Regions from separate parts of the Homo sapiens genome. Here region 2 is linked to region 1. A link means that fine-mapping ties the variant in region 1 to the expression of a gene that starts in the linked region. Tissue or cell type: minor salivary gland. Region 1 holds a variant in brackets; the other region holds the start of a gene. All regions are shown on one strand. Distances are between the middles of the regions.

What was found. PIP is the estimated chance that this variant, and not a neighbour inherited with it, causes the effect.
Region 2: it holds the start of WFDC3, and the variant in region 1 is fine-mapped to the expression of WFDC3 in minor salivary gland (GTEx, PIP above 0.99).

The regions. Positions count from the first base shown.
Region 1 is chr20:45,423,326-45,431,430 of GRCh38, reverse strand. It overlaps PIGT (phosphatidylinositol glycan anchor biosynthesis class T), which reads right to left. Exons shown (of 12, transcript NM_015937.6): 10 at 7,050-7,215; 11 at 6,852-6,935; 12 at 5,190-5,857. The coding sequence ends at 5,605. MIR6812 (microRNA 6812) reads right to left here and starts at 5,921; the gene lies at 5,858-5,921. LOC105372631 (a long non-coding RNA gene) reads right to left here and starts at 4,009. Exons shown (of 4, transcript NR_159957.1): 1 at 3,886-4,009; 2 at 1,761-1,986. The variant C/A (reference allele first, on the strand shown) is at 3,185.
Region 2 is chr20:45,787,207-45,795,311 of GRCh38, reverse strand. It overlaps WFDC3 (WAP four-disulfide core domain 3), which reads left to right and starts at 3,429. Exons shown (of 7, transcript NM_080614.2): 1 at 3,429-3,480; 2 at 5,330-5,418; 3 at 6,253-6,381; 4 at 7,330-7,476. The coding sequence starts at 5,337. It overlaps DNTTIP1 (deoxynucleotidyltransferase terminal interacting protein 1), which reads right to left and starts at 3,358. Exons shown (of 13, transcript NM_052951.3): 1 at 3,203-3,358; 2 at 2,565-2,635; 3 at 1,295-1,391. The coding sequence starts at 3,307. RefSeq lists silencers at 2,656-2,795, 3,006-3,275.

The DNA of each region.
Region 1 (8,105 bases):
AAAATTAAAAAGGAAAGGACGCTGGAGAAAAGAAACAGACACAGATAACTGAATTCAGCAGAAAATCTGATAAAAGGAAAAATTTATAGGAGGGCTTTCAGCTTAAAAAACAAAAACTTTAATAAAATAAGACATTAGGCTGGGTTCAGTGGTTCAGTGTTCACACCTGTAATCCCAGTGCTTTGGGAGGCCAAGGTGGGAGGATTGCTTGAGGCTAGGTGTTGAAGACCACCCTGGACAACATAACAAGATTTCATTTCTAAAAATAAATAAATAAATAAATAAATATTTTAAAATAAATAAAAATTTAAAAGACCCTTAAAAATGAGTGTTAAAGAAATAAATTGAAGATCTAGGTAACACCACTAAAAAAACTGCAAATAAATTGAAAATCTCAAGGAAGAAACAAGTCAGAGCTACAAATCAAATTACTAGCATAGAATAAAAGTTGGGGATAGTAAGTACCAATAGCCTGGGCCAGGTGCGGTGGCTCACACCTATAATGTCAGCACTTTGGTTGGCTGAGGTGGGTAAATCACTTGAGGTCAGGAGTTTGAGACCAGCCTGGTTAACGTGGTGAAACCCCGCCTCTACTAAAAATACAAAAATTAGCCAGGCATGGTGGTGCGTGCCTGTCATCCCAGCTACTCGGGAGGCTGAGGTGAGAGAATCACTTGAACCCAGGAGGCAGAGGTTGCAGTGAGCCAAGATTGCACCACTGCACTCCAGCCTGGGCGACAGAGACTCCATCTTAAATAAATAAATAAATAAATAAATCTCAATAGCCTAGAAAGAGGAAAAAAAAAGTCAAATTATTTTTTAAAATATTACCCCATAAAATTGTCCTTCAGGTATTAAGAAAATATGCAAAAATTCAGGGAAAACAATATCCATAAACTCTTCATTTTTGTAGAATTATTTTTGTTAATCAATCTAACAAAATGTTGATGAGGTTATCCTGAAGTTACTGATAGTTGCTTTATATGGTAGAGCATCAATGTCCAATATGGTAGCCACTGACCACATGCAACTATTGAGCACATGAGTTATGGCTAATATTAGTTGTTATATGCTATAAATGTTTAAAGTACACATCAGATTTCAAAGACTTAATATAAAGAAAAGTAAAATATTGCATTAGTTTTTATTTCATATTAATTATATATTGAAATGATATATATACTGTACTCAAATAAACTATCATCAAATTAATTTTACCTGTTTTTCCTTTCTTTTTTTTTTTTTTTTGAGACAGGGTCTCCTTCCCTGTCACCCAGGCTGGAGTGCAGTGGCACAATCTCAGCCCACTATTAGCCTCAACTTCCCGAGCTCAGGTGATCCTGCCCACCTCAGCCTCCCAAAGTGCTGGGATTACAGGCTGAGCCACTGTGCCTGGCCCCTCTTTTTACTTTTTAAAAAAGCTACTAGGAAATTGAAAATTCGATTTGTGGCTTGTATTATATTTCTGTTGCACAGCACCATAGTAGACTTTGGGGAGAGATTTCGCTTGTTTGTACTATTTAGTTTAGTTTGATCTTTTAAATAAGTATGGTTATTCATATAAAACAATACACTCATTATTCCTAAATTGAATAAATAAACCAATGGACAAAGAGCTATGCTTTCTCCCCTGGGATGTTGAGACAACTAGCTGGGAGGCTCTGGATGGGAACCAATAACAAAAGAATGGAGAACAGCTGTTCATTGTCCAGCCCACTCCCTTTACAGATAGGAAAACTGAGACCCCAAAGGTCACTTACCACTCTAAAATCTCATGGACTCAAGTGTGCAGTAGATGAGGCTGAAGACTGGCATTTCAGCTGAGGCAGGAATACTGACTTAGGGGACATTCTCAGTAGCTCCCAGGAGCCCCTCCAAGGTGTGTAGCACCACCTCCAGACAAGGAGTCCACTTCATCCCGGCTCATACCTCTTGCCCAGAGTGCTTCCTCTTCCAAGAAATCAAAAACAAGATATTTCCTTTGTCCTGTGGAAACAGGGACTCTTCTTTTTCTGCAGGTATAAGTTCCAGCCTCCCAGCCCTGGCTCATGGAGCTCAGCCCTTGGCACCATGGAGCTCAGCAGCTTCTGTGCCCTGCCTTGCCATCTGCCTGGTGGGCATGACCAGCTCAGAAAAGACCTCAAGTGAGCTGAAGTGCTATTGGGAAAGAGGACCCTGAGACCCATAGCCTATGGGACAGGGCTGGCTCCAACAGGCTACCCGGTCACTTTCACCTCAGCGGGAGTCCAAGGCCCAGATATTGAAAGGGCTCACCTGTGGTCACCCTTCAGTCTGGGGGAAGACCTGGGGCCAGACCTCCCAGATGCCTATTTGATTTAATTAAGTCTTCATCAAATTATTATTTTATTATTATTATTATTCAAGATGGAGTCTCACTCTGTCGCCCAGGCTGGAGTGCAGTGGCCTGATCTCGGCTCACTGCAACCTCCACTTCCTGGGTTCAAGTGATTCTCCTGCCTCAGCCTCCCGAGTAGCTGGGACTATAGGCACCCGCCACCACGCCTGGCTAATTTTTGTATTTTTAGTAGAAGCGGGGTTTCACCATGTTGGCTAGGCTGGTCTCGAACTCCTGACCTCAAATGATCCACCCACCTCGGCTTCCCAAAGTGCTGGGAGTGGTGTGAGCCACGACGCCCGGCCCAAATTTTTACTTTTATTATAAACTCAACATATACTTTTGTTTTAAAAAGACAAACAATACATAAATTGTTATAAAGTTAAAAGTGAGTTCTCTGTTTTACACAATCTTATTCTGAAAAGTATCCATTGTTAGAATGCTTAGGAGAGACAGTAAGTTTTCATACTACTTTAAAAATAAGACCAAGTTCTTAAGCTTGGCTACACATTGGTGTCACTTGGAGACTCTGTGAGTCCCACATTAAATTCTGATTTAACTGGTTTGGGTAAAGCCTGGGCATCAGGATTTTTTCAGTTCCCCAGGTGAATGTAGCGTGCTAGGATAGCAATTTGAAATAGGGTATGGCCAGGGAAAACCTCACTGATAATAGTGGAGGTGGTGAAAAGGGGTGGGATTCTGGATTTATTTTGAAGGTAGGGTGCAAACAGGATGAGAGAGAGACAAGGATGACTCAAAGGTATTTGGCCTGAGTGCCTGGAAAGACACGAATTACCTTTTACAGAGATGAGGTGACTATGGTTGGGC[C/A]TGTTTGGGGTGGGGTGGAGCACATCAGAAGCTCGGTTTTGGAGATATTCAATTTGAGATGTCTTTAGACATCCAAATGGAGAAAGCAAGTAGGCAGTTGGGTAAATGAATCCAAGATCCAGGGAGGAGGTCTGATCTAGAAATATGTGGGTGTTGCCAGAGCGTAGGTTACATGTGGCATGGTAGTGGAGGTCGTTTCTAGGTACTGACAGGGCTGCGGGTATAAAAGAGAGCCAGGCCACAGCTCTGTGCTCTTCTGACTTGGCAGACACCCCATGCTATGCATGCTCCATCCCACACTAGGCACACTACACAGACCACTTAGCTTTGTGTATCCACTCACCTGCGTTCCTGTCTCATTTACAGTCTGCTCCTTTACTGCTTTTGAAGTAAACTCAAGTAAAAGCACCTTGAACAAATTGCCTTTGCCCATGGTCTAGACTAGCTCACCGCCTTTCCTTCCTACATATGCACACATACCACCCGCATGTGCTGAGGGCTCCTAAAACCCTTCAAGGAACCTACACAGCCCATCTATGCTGGCTACAGAGACACCTGTACCACTGTGTTAAGACTGCTGCACTCACACATGTGGAGCTTCCAGAGTGCCCCTTGCCCATCCCTATCTTGGATCCCAGATCTCAAGCCAGAATAGCCCATACCCAGTTAATACATTTAGCGTTTGCTGATTGAGCACTTACATGTCCTGAGATGGGTCAGGTCTTAATGAAAGACAGAACCTGTGCCTCCAGGAAGCACACCATCTGGTGGAAGTCAAAGGACAGCAGCCAGCTGATAAGGAACACGTGTTAAGTCCAAGGCAATCTGGAAGCAAAGGCGTGGGGCACGGACACGTCAAGGGAAACTTCCCGGAGGCAGCAACTTCTCATCTGGGGTGTGTGTGTGTGTGTGTGTGTTTGAGACAGAGTCTCACTCTGTCACCAGGCTGGAGTACAGTGGCGCAATCTTGGCTCACTGCAACCTCTGCCTCCCAGGTTCAAGCGATTCTCCTGCCTCAGCCTACCGAGTAGCTGGGACTACAGGCGCGCGCCACTATGCCCAGCTAATTTTTTTTTGTATTTTTAGTAGAGACGGGGTTTCACCATGTTGGCCAGGATGGTCTCGATCTCTTGACCTTGTGATCTGCCCACCTTGGCTTCCCAAAGTGCTGGGATTACAGGCATGAGACACCGTGCCCGGCCAGCCTCATCTGGTTTTATGAGGGAACCAGGCAGTTGAGAGGTGTGCATGGTTGGTGGAATAGGGCATTCTAGGCCAAACCACTATGATGGGAGAACTGAGTGGGGTAGGAGGTGGGGGGAACTGCAAATAACACACAGTTGATGCCAAGTGTGCCAGAGGAAAAGACAGAAGATGAGGGCAGTGGGAGGCAACCGCCTAAAGGCTTGTTTTACAGAAATCCAGGGTTATGTAACCAGCAAGGGAGGTGGGCGGGGCGGGCTTCAATCCAATGAGCCTGGCTTCAAAGCCTGGGGGTGGTCTGAGGACAGAGCACAGCAGGAGCTCCTGAGAAGCCTGCTAAAAAGTCAAAGTCTGGGCCACACCCAGACCAACTGAATTAGTAGGATCTGGACCCCAGGAACATACATTATTTTCACAAGTGCCCCCAGTGACTCTGATGCACACTACAGTTAGAGACCCACCACCCAGAGCCCTCCCACCTCTCCACTCTACCCTTGCTGATGTGGACTGACTCTCAATGCCCCCAAGAAGTAGGATGATTCATTTCCATGGCCATGGATTATGCTTTCAGAAACACTCCCAAACAACCCGGGGAGTTCTGGGAATCACAATCAGATGGGGATGGGGAGGACAGGGGGAGCAGATCAGGAGAAGAAATTTCCGGCCAGGTGGGAGGAGGTAGGGTTTTTTGTTTTTTGTGGAGGGGGTTGCAGGCATAGGGTAGGAGGTCCTGTTCAGGCACTCAGCAAACAATCCCCAGTCCCCAGCTCTTCCCAGGACTCAAGGACAAGAGGCAAAGAACCACGGAAACAGCCGTTTTTATTCCACAAACAGTAAACTCCATCCACTACACAGTGACATACACTGTGTAGCACACCCCATCACCTTGGCCAGTGCTGCCAGCCGACCTTTCTGTGGTGATGGAAATCTTTTTCTGTGCTGTCCAATACAGCAGCCACCGACCACTTTTGCTTATTGAGCACCTCAATATAGAGGTGGCCACTACAGGTGAGGAAATGAATTTCTAAGTTAATTCAAATTCAAATGCCACATTTGGCTCGTGGCTCCTGTACTGGACAACACAGCTGTAGGCCCTGACCTGGTCCAGGGCACTTTGGTTCAAAAGCCAACTCTGAGGAGAGCAAGTGGCAGAAACAGCCCTTGGGCTCCCCTCCCCAGAGAGAAACGGCAGCTGCAGCTGCTGGAAAGGGCAAGAATCAGAGTGGGGGGACACCTCGGGCGCGCCGGATAAGGTTGGCCAGCCGCTTGGCCAGGCCACCTGTGCGGGGCTCCTCGATGTGGAAGGTTCGGGTGAGGAGATTGTAGAAGGAGCCATAGCACACGGCCACCACAGTGCACGTGAGGCAGATCACGTTGTAGGGCATGCTGAAGTCCGGTGTCGGCAGGTTCACCAGCAGCGGCTCCGTGTAGAGCCGCACAAAGTAGTTAGAGCCATCAGAGACTGGGAACCTGGGGTCAGGGGAAGAGCGGTGAGACAGGACTGGCTGCTCCTCCCCATCTCACCCCATCCTCATTCCGGCAGTATTGGGCAATGCAACACAGTGTTTCCAATGTTCTCTTAGGCTCAAAACCTTTCAACAGAAGGCATAGCTCAATCTCTAAACCTGATAAAGGGGAGCGGCGGGCGGGGGGCAAGGGGAGGGAGAGCATTAGGACAAATACCTAATGCATGCGGGGCTTAAAACCTAGATGATGGGTTGATGGGTACGGCAAACCACCGTGGCACATATATACCTATGTAACAAACCTGTATGTTCTGCACATGTATCCCAGAACTTAAAGTAAAATAAAAAATAAATAAGAAAGAAAGAAAGAGAAAGAAAGAAAGAAAGAAAGAAAGAAAGAAAGAAAGAAAGAAAGAAAGAAAGAAAGAAAGAAAGAGAAAGAAAGAAAGAGAGAGAAAGGAAAGAAAGAGAGACGCCTGGTGTTGAGGTGGAGGAAAGGGGCCCCGCCTTTGCTTGGTTGCTTCTTTCTTAGCCTGGTTTCAGCCTAAATGCCACCTCCTAAATGAAGCCTTCCTAGATAACCCAGTAAATCAATTCCTACCCAACCTCTAACCCCATTACTCTCTAGACCAGAATCTTCCTTCTAGACTGTAAGCAAAGGGAGGCCAGGGCCAAGTCTGTTTTGTTTAATCTTGCACACTCAGTGCTCTCAGAAGCACTTGGCATTTGATAAGTGCTTGATTAAATATTTAAGAGCATCAAGAAGTAAATGTAGGCTGTAAGTAAAAGTATTCTTCTAGAAGCACTTTAAAATCATTTTATAAAGTCTTCACAAATTCCACAGACTGCCAGGATTTTTATTAGGATTGAATTAAATCTACACATCTCTTTGGAAGATGTAACATCTACCCTGAACTCCCCTGCAGGAGCCTGGTCACCTGTGTTAAGGCCCAGCAGGCAGCTGAGGATGTGTTATCAGTGAGTGTGGTCACACTTACAGGCTGTTGAAGAGGGGACTCTCTTCCCAGTCCACTGGCTTGGCTGCTACCATGCTGGGCACAAGGGCGCTGAGGACAGATGGGCTACAGAGAAGCAGAGAGATGGCCCGTGTTCCCATCTGGCTGCCCTATCAAGGGGTAAGCAGCAGAAAGGGTAGGTCAGGGGGATGAGAGGTGGCCTGTGGGGGTGGAGCCCACCTGACATAGAAGCCATGGTTAGGATCTGGCGTGTACTCGGTCCACTTCAGCAGCGCCCGCTCAAACTGGATGGAAACCTTGGTGACTGAGTTGGCCGGCAGCTGAATCAGCATCTCCAGGAGGTGGGGTTGCAGCCGGTCCTGGGCAGGCTGGTAGTGGATGTAACCTGGAGACATGCAAGGTCACCCACATCTCTTTCCTGGGGTCAGGCTACCTGCTGCCCCTGTCCCTGCTGCTTGCCATGGAGCCTCAATCTGGGTGCCTAGAAGATGGGCTTGGGAGCATAGAAGCCAGGCAGGCAAGGGAAGAAAGCAGGGGCTAAGAAAAGGGAGAGGATGTTTCCAGGGCAGTGATCCCAGGATGCGATCAAGAGAGGTTGTTAGGAGTGCTGCAGATGGCTAATCAATCTTCACATCACTACAACTGGGGCACCAGACACCAAGTGCCTGATGTGACGCAAGAAGAAGTTCACAGAACCACCTGGGAATTTTTCTTGCCAAAAATGTGGGACATGAATCTAATCAGGTTTCTAAATCTAACCACCAACACACAAGAAATATAGGAGAGGAGGGGTGTGTTAAACACTAGCACAAGGACAAACCCAGAATGTGGAACATTCTACACAACAAATGACCCAGTTTCTTCAACAAATAAATGACATTAAAAAAAAAAAAAAAAGGCATGGGCACTGCTACAGATGAAGAGAGACTGAAGAGTACCACACCAAAGACAAGACATTTATAATAAGGGACATTCTGGGTGTGGAGACAGGGAGTATATGGGAACTCTGTGCTTTGTGCTCAGTTTTTCTGTAAACCTAAAACTGCTCTAAGAATAGTCTAGTAATTTTAAAGAAAAAGAAACTTTTTTTTTTTTCGTGACAGGGTCTCACACTGTCGCCCATGCTGAAGTGCAATAGTATGATCATGGCTCACTATAGCCTTGACCTCCTGGGTTCAAGTGATCCTCCCACCTCAGCCTCTTGAGTAGCTGGGACTACAGGCGTGCAACACCACCCCCAGCTAATTAAAAACAATTTATTTTAATCCCAGCACT
Region 2 (8,105 bases), 360 kb before region 1:
CCTGTTAATGTGCATCAACCTGAAGGAAACTGAATATAAAATAAGTCTTTATCCTAGCTTCATACAGAAGGGAAAAGTGATTATGAGCAGGGCTTTGGGATCAGCCAGATTTAGATTCACATTTCAGGCTTGACCTCCTCCCTTTATTCCCCCTCTTACGGATATAATCGTGGGGGTGCCCAACAGATTGAGGTGTAAATAGTGCAAAAAATCAGGACGGGCGCGGTGGCTCACACCTGTAATCCCAGCACTTTGCGAGGCCGAGGTGGGCGGATCACGAGGTCAGGAGATCGAGACCATCCTGGCTAACACGGTGAAACCCCGTCTCTACTAAAAATACAAAAAATTAGCTGGGCGTGGTGGCGGATGCCTGTAATCCCAGCTACTTGGGAGGCTGGGGCAGAGAACTGCTTGAACCCAGGAGGCGGAGGTTGCAGTGAGCCAAGACCGTGCCACTGCACTCCAGCCTGGCGACAGAGTGAGACTCTGTCTCAAAAAAAAAAAAAAAAATTTTTTTTTTTTTTTAGTAGAGATGAGGTCCCACTGTGTTGCCCAGGCTGTTCTCAAACTCCTGGCCTCAAGTGATCCTGCCTCGGCCTCCCAAAGTGCTGGGGTTGCAGGTGTGAGCCACTGTGCATGGCCCCAATAATGGTTATATTATTAAACAACTAATAAGAATACTTATTGGACACTTGTTATGTCTGGAGCACAGTGCTCAGCACAGTACATTTAAGTCACTTCATCCTTATAAGAGGTCAGCAAAAAAAACCACGTGCGTGACAAGGGCAGATTTTAAAAAAAAAAGGTATCTGAATTACCCTCAAGGAGGGAATAAAATTCTTGGGGGATTAAAAATTTGAAAACTGACCAGGTGCCCTGGCTCACACCTATAATCCCAGCACTTTGGGAGGCCAAGGCAGGCAAATCATTTGAGGTCAGGAGTTCGAGACCAGCCTGGCCAACAGTGAAACCCCGTCTCTACTAAAAATACAAAAATTAGCCCTGCAAGGTGGTGGGCACCTGTAATCCCAGCCACTAGGGAGGCTGAGGCATGAGAATCGCTGGAACCTGGGAAGTGGAGGTTGCGGTGAATCGATATTGTGCCACTGCACTCCAGCCTGGGTGACAGAGTGAGAATCTGTCTCAAAAACACAAAACAAAACAAAACAAAAACAACAAGAAAGGAAAACTTTAGATATCTGTATGTAGGAAAGAGACAGACTGGTGATGCAGGCAAGGACTGGGCTCCTCATGAGTCTTTCTCCTGTTATTTTTTATCCTGTGTCCCTCTCACCTTCATGTACTTGTTGAAGACAGTCTGGATCTCCTCGTTGATGCTGGGCTGCAGGACAGCTCGGAGGAGATCCATGGAGATGGCAGGATCTGTGAAACTGCATTCAGGAGGGAGACAGGGTGAGGGGGCATGTCCCAAACATATTCTTTCCCAGCCTCCCCAGTTAATTATGGACATAGAATTCCTTAACAATACTAGACAGCTTTTATTGAAAACTAGCTACATGCTCAGATTTTGTGCAAATCACAGAGGCATGACTTTATTTCTTTCTCATAATAACTCTATGAAGTGCATATTATTTTCAAAGTTTTTTTTTTTGAGACGGAGTCTCACTCTGTTGCCCAGGCTGGAGTGCAGTGGCGTGGTTTTGGCTCACTGCAACCTCTGCCTCCTGGGTTCAAGCAATTCTCCTGCCTCAGCCTCCTTAGTAGCTGGGATTACAGGTGTGCACCACCACGCCCGGCTAATTTTTGTATTTTTAGTAGAGACCGGGTTTCTCCATTTTGGTCAGGCTGGTCTCGAACTCCCAACCTCAGGTGATCTGCCCGCCTCAGACTCCCAAAGTGCTGGGATTACAGGCGTGAGCCACCGCGCCCGGCCAATTTTTTGTTATTTTTAGTAGAGACGGGGTTTCTCCATGTTGGTCAGGCTGTTCTGGAAGTCCCGACCTCAGGTGATCCACCCACCTCAGCCTCCCAAAGTGCTGGGATTACAGGCGTGAGCCACCGCGCCCGGCCCAAAGTGTTTTTATGAAATATAATACTTATACAGAAAAGTCTATACACTTTAATGAGTAATTATAGTGAACATCCATTTCACCACTATCAGCATCCCAAAGGCCCACCTTGTGCTCTCTCCCTTCCCTGACATGCATACTATTAATCCCTCTTTATAGTTGAGAAAACGGGCTCATCAGAGTCTGTTGATGAGAACACAGTTGTCTGACTCCAGAGCCTGTTCTCTTAAACTCCATGCTAACTGACCTCTTTAGAGCCCTCAACCACAGAGCCAGTGAATGTGAGGGATCTTAGGTATTGTTTATTCCACAACCCATCTCCTGTGCCCTTCCCCATTTTGTACGTGAGTTCAGAGAAGGAAGTGACTTGACTAGTTCAAGATCACACAGAGTTACAGAATCGGAGTCTCCTCTTCCTCAGTCCTGTGCTCTTTCTACCGGCTGTAGATCTCCATAGCCTTGTGCACTGGGGATCCCAAATCTGCCATGCAAGCCAGTGGCTGGGATATAAGCCCCATGCAGGGCCAGCCTTACCTTGTTGTCATCTGTGAGCGGCGGCCCCTCCGCTGCACCTGCCGGTGCTTTATCATTATGTTCCAAGGGTTCTGTGGGGACCAACGGAACAAATGTCACTGCGGCCTGTGACACTGGGGTGGGGTGGAGGTGGAGGGTGGGTATGAAGTTAAACCTGGACATCCCTGCTTCTCAGATCCGTCACCATCTCTCCCGCCTTGGGGTGGGACGATAGTTGTAAGGCCTCCTCCACAAAAGAGGAACTGAGGAAGTTTCCTGCCTTAAAAGTCCCGACCCTGCCTTCTGGCACGGCAGGAGGAAGGGAAGCAGTATTTACCGAGGGTCAACTCTGTGTCAGGTGATGTCCGGGGCGTTGTACCCGCCTTTATCTTCCCATCCCACAACAAGTTTTATGAGACAGGTACTAATCATTTCCATTTTATAGAAGAGGATCCTGGGACTCAGGGGGTTGACAGAGATGGCCCACGTCACCTAGCTAGGAGGGCGGCACCAGAATTTAAATCCAGGTCGTCGGGCTGCGAAAACGCCAACCCCCTCTGCAGCTCCAGCCTCCGCGTTCTCTCGCCCGCGGGCCAGGGTCCCAGGAGCCCCGAGGCCGTGCCCGGCCTGAGCCCAGACCTCACCGGGGGCGCCCTCACCGTAAGAACCAGCTGCCCCGCTGCGCCCGCATCCCCCAGCTCCAAGCCGCCCCTCTCGGCCCCGCTAGGTCCCCGCGGCTGCTCGGCGTCGCCAGTGGCTCCCATGGCGCCCCCGGCCCCCACAACTCCGCTGGACTCTGTCACCGGCCGGAAAGTGGCGCCGTGACGTCACTGGAGCGCGCTGCTCGTCCGCCCGGAAGCGCGACGCTGGAGCTGCGGGGTTACCATGGGAACCGAACCGCCGCGCCTCGCCCAGGACAGTTACACTTAGAGGCCTTGTAGGTGGAGGTCGTTGGGGCTTCCTCTCGGGAGGGCTGCGCCTCGATTGTGCAGTGTGGGTGTTCAGTGGCGGTTCAGTCAAGGGATGTTTCCCGCTGGGCCAAGGCCTGGGGATGACTGCGGGGTAGGAGGAAGGGACCAGTTTTCTGTAGGCTGGGGTTGGGGAGCAGAGGGAAGCGTTTGGTACAGCGGCGCCTGCAGTTCAGTTTTTGAAAACTAGATTTTAATATGCTCGGCCAGGGGCGGTGGCTCACGCCTGTAATCCCAGCACTTTGGGAGGCCGAGGCGGGAGGATCACTTGCCATCAGGAGTTCGAGACCAGCCTGGCCAACATGGCGAAACCCCGTCTCTACTAAAAATATAAAAATTAGCCGGGCGTGGTGGTGGGCACCTGTAATCCCAGCTACTCGGGAGGCTGAGGCAGGAGAGTCTCTTGAACCCAGGAGGCGGAGGTTGCAGTGAGCCGAGATCACGCCACTGCACTCCAGCCTGGGCGACAGAGGGAGACTGTCTCAAAAAAAAAAAAAAAAAAAGCACATTAGGCACATGTTAGGTCATCATCAAATGTTAATTATGCCGAGATCGCGCCACTGCATTCCAGCCTGGGGGACAGAGGGAGACTCTGTCTCAAAAAAAAAAAAAAAAAAAAAAAAAAAAGCATATTAGGCACATATGAGGTCATCATCAAATGTTAATTATCTCCATGAGCCAACATCAGCCTTCTAACCATAAGGGCGACTTCCTGGCTCCAAACTTTTTGATCCTATTAAGGAGGTTTTACCTTGTACCTGCCCATAGGACTAAGCAGTGCCAGTGGACACCATTAGGTATCACAGCTAACCAAAGGCATGACCAGGACAGATAAAGAAAAAAAGAAATGGAGAAAAAAGAAATAAAGGAGGTATATGTGGGCAGACTATTTGAGTCATACATAGCAACTTCTCTTGGGTTCTGCCAGCTAGACTTCATACAGTCCAAGAATGGCCTGTGTGGGTTAGAGGGACAAAGATGTAGGTGTTTGGTGCTTTTCATTAGTTCTTAACAAACTCAACTACTGCTTTTCTGTAGGTTTTTGATAGTTTCTTTTCTCTCTTTTTTTTTTTTTTGAGACAGAGTCTCACTCTGTTACCCAAGCTGGAGTGCAGTGGCATGATCTCCACTCACTGCAACCTCTGCCTCCTGGGTTCAAGCTATTCTCCTGCCTCAGCCTCCCACGTAGCTGGGATTACAGGCATGCACCAGCATGCCCAGCTGATTTTTGTATTTTTAGTAGAGACAGGGTTTCGCCATGTTGGCCAGGCTGGTCTCAAACTCCTGACCTCAGGTGATCTGCCCGCCTTGGCCTATTTGATAGTTTCTGAGTGGTCTGTTCCATTCTGTATTTTCTTGGTTGCTAGGATGAACAGGAGCCACAATTTTATTATGCTTGGTTATGTTATTAGCTTTGGCCATTAAGTAGTGTCGTGAATCCCTCCCTCTGTTATTTGGGCTAAAGCCATGTCCTTCCAATGCCCTTTAGGGCTCTCTTTGATTCTTTTTCCAATGGCCACCCCTCCATTTTTCCAGCCACCCACTAGGTTTCTCATCATCCAGGAATATTGTGTATATTGCTTACAGAATTTGATCCTCCCATCACAGGTCCCCTTTGGTAGTGCCAGGAATTTTCCCACACTCCAGCAGCCAATCCCTCTTCTTCTTGTCAGGAGAAGATATTCTTGGGGAGTATTGTGAAAGGGAAGGTTTTGGGACTGGGTTTGGGGCCATCCCTAGTCCTGCTCATACCTCAGCTGATACTCTGGGCAAGGTGTACACCTCTAGCCTGAACTGAGCTCTTGTCCCAACTCTCAGCATCATCATGATGTTAAGCTGCCTCTTTCTTCTGAAGGCACTTCTTGCTCTTGGGTCTCTGGAATCCTGGATAACTGCAGGAGAACATGGTGAGCTATCATTTGGGATCCCTGGCCAACAGTAACAGAAAGTGACTAGAGGAGAGGAGAACTCATCCCCTGCCTTCTCCCAGAGCAAGGTTGCTTGTAAGTGGAGATGATCATCTCTATAGGACAGGACTGGATGAATAGATTCTCAGGATGGCCTGGGTCATTCTTCCTGGCTTTCTTTACCCTCTCTGGACAAGGAGATAGGACTTCCAGTTGGGCTTACTAGAGGTTCTAGCTTTTCCCTAGAACTCATTAAATGAGAACAGGATCATCCCACCCTTTCTCTCTCGTTATCTGCAGGATGGCTGCTCCTTTAGCAGTGGTGGATATATGTTAGTATTTGTGTATGAGGAGGGGAAGGTGGTTGCAGAATTTTTTTTTTTTTTTTGAGATGGAGTCTCACTCTGTCACCCAGGCTGGAGTGCAGTGGCGTGATCTCAGCTCACTGCAAACTCCACCTCCCAGGTTCACGCCATTCTCCTGCCTCAGCCTCCCGAGTAGCTGGGACTACAGGTGCCCGCCGCCACGCCCAGCTAATTTTTTGTATTTTTAGTAGAGATGGGGTTTCACTGTGTTAGCCAGGATGATCTCGATCTCCTGACCTCATGATCCGCCCGCCTCGGCCTCCCAAAGTGCTGGGATTACAGGCATGAGCTATCGTGCCCAGCCAGAATTTTTTTTTTTTTTTAAGAGACAGGGTCTCATTCTGTCACCCAGGCTAGAGTGCAGTGGTGCAGAAATATTTTGGATAGAGATGCCTGGAGGGGCTGAAGGTCCATTCCCCATTTCTGAGGCCTGGCTAGTTACCCCAAACTCAAATAGTATCTTTTGCAGCAAAAGAGGGAGAATGCCCTCCCCATAAGAACCCATGCAAAGAGCTGTGCCAGGGTGATGAATTGTGTCCGGCTGAACAGAAGTGCTGCACCACAGGCTGTGGTCGGATCTGCCGAGACATTCCTAAGGGTATGTTGGCATGAGGGGCAAAATCTGGGCATACTCTCTGACATTGCCTCTGGGATAGATGGAAGTAGAGAGCTTCCCACCTTCTAGGTTGCCTCTGGAAGTCTCCCTTGCCTAGAGTACTTCTTCTTTACTCTTTTAGGGTCCCTCCTCCTTTAATTATTCAGTGCCCCCAGTTGTTTGCCTTCCATCAGGAAAGAGCGCACCATTGATTATCTATGTCTTTTACTTTGGACTCAAAGTTCCTGTGAAGGCTGGAGGGAAGAGTTGTAAAGGGAAGGCTGTGTAAGATAATGATTAAGAGAGTAGACCCTAGAGCCAAGCAGACCTTTTTAAGCCTTAAGCCTTAGCTCTTTATAAATCTTAAGCTTTTAGCCTCAGTTTCCTCATCTATAAAATGGGGATAATTGTGAGGATCAAATAAGATGTTCATGGCACAAGGTAAACGTCAGTAAATGTTACAGTAAATATTTGCTATTACTATTGTTGTTATTATTGTCTCTTTGTCTTAGCACCAGGGTTGAGAGGCTTAAATAAATCTCAGGACTTCCTTTTTCTGTTTTTCCCTTCTGCTGTGCCCGTGGGTGTTGCCAGGCACTATTTTCTCTCTCTCTCTCTCTTTTTTTTTTGAGACGGAGTTTCGCTCTTGTTGCTCAGACTAGAATGCAGTGGCGTGATCTCGGCTCACCGCAACCTCTGCCTCCCGGGTTCAAGTGATTCTCCTGCCTCAGCCTCCCAAGTAGCTGGGATTTACAGGCATGTGCCACCACCCCCGACTAATTTTGTATTTTTAGTAGAGATGGGGTTTCTCCATGTTGGCCAGGCTGTTCTCGAACTCCCTACCTCAGGTGATCCACCCGCCTTGGCCTCCCAAAGTGCTGGGATTACAGGTGTGAGCCATGGCGCTCGGCCTATTTTCTCTTTTCTTTGCTGTCTCCCTTTTTGCTACAGGGAGGAAAAGAGATTGCCCTAGGGTTATTCGGAAACAATCCTGTTTGAAAAGGTGCATCACTGATGAGACATGTCCAGGTGTAAAGAAATGCTGCACGCTTGGCTGCAACAAGAGCTGTGTAGTCCCAATCTCTAAACAGAAGCTGGGTAAGAAACGCTGTCCCCACACCTCATGGTCTGTTTGGTCTGCTTGTTTATTTCTCAAATATGCACATATCAGCTTGTTGGTTTTACTTTGCTGCTATATTCTAAGACCTTAAAAAAAAAAGATATACAAAGGGTGCACAAGCCATAATCATTTGTGGTATGTAGCCTGGGCAGGCAGAGGGAGGGTGCCAGAAGGGCAGCCTCAACTTACCCTCATTTGCAGACTGCTTTGAAAACGGTTGAGTAGCCAGGTGTGGTGGCTCATGCCTGGAATCCCAGCACTTTGGGAGGCCAAGGCGGGCGGATCACGAGGTCAGGAGATCGAGACCATCCTGGCTAACACGGCGAAACTCCGTCTCTACTAAAAATACAAAAAAAGTAGCCGGGCGTGGTGGCGGGTGCCTGTAGTCCCAGCTACTTAGGAGGCTGAAGCAGGAGAATGGCGTGAACCCAGAAGGCGGAGCTTGCAGTGGGCCGAGATTATGCCACTGCACTCCAGCCTGGGTGACAGAGCGAGACTCTGTCTCAAAAAAAAAAAAAAAAAAAAAAAAAAGAAAAAAGAAAACCACTGGGTAATTCCCAGTTCCCATAATCAGTTGCAATATTCTCTGTTAAAAAATCTTATCCTG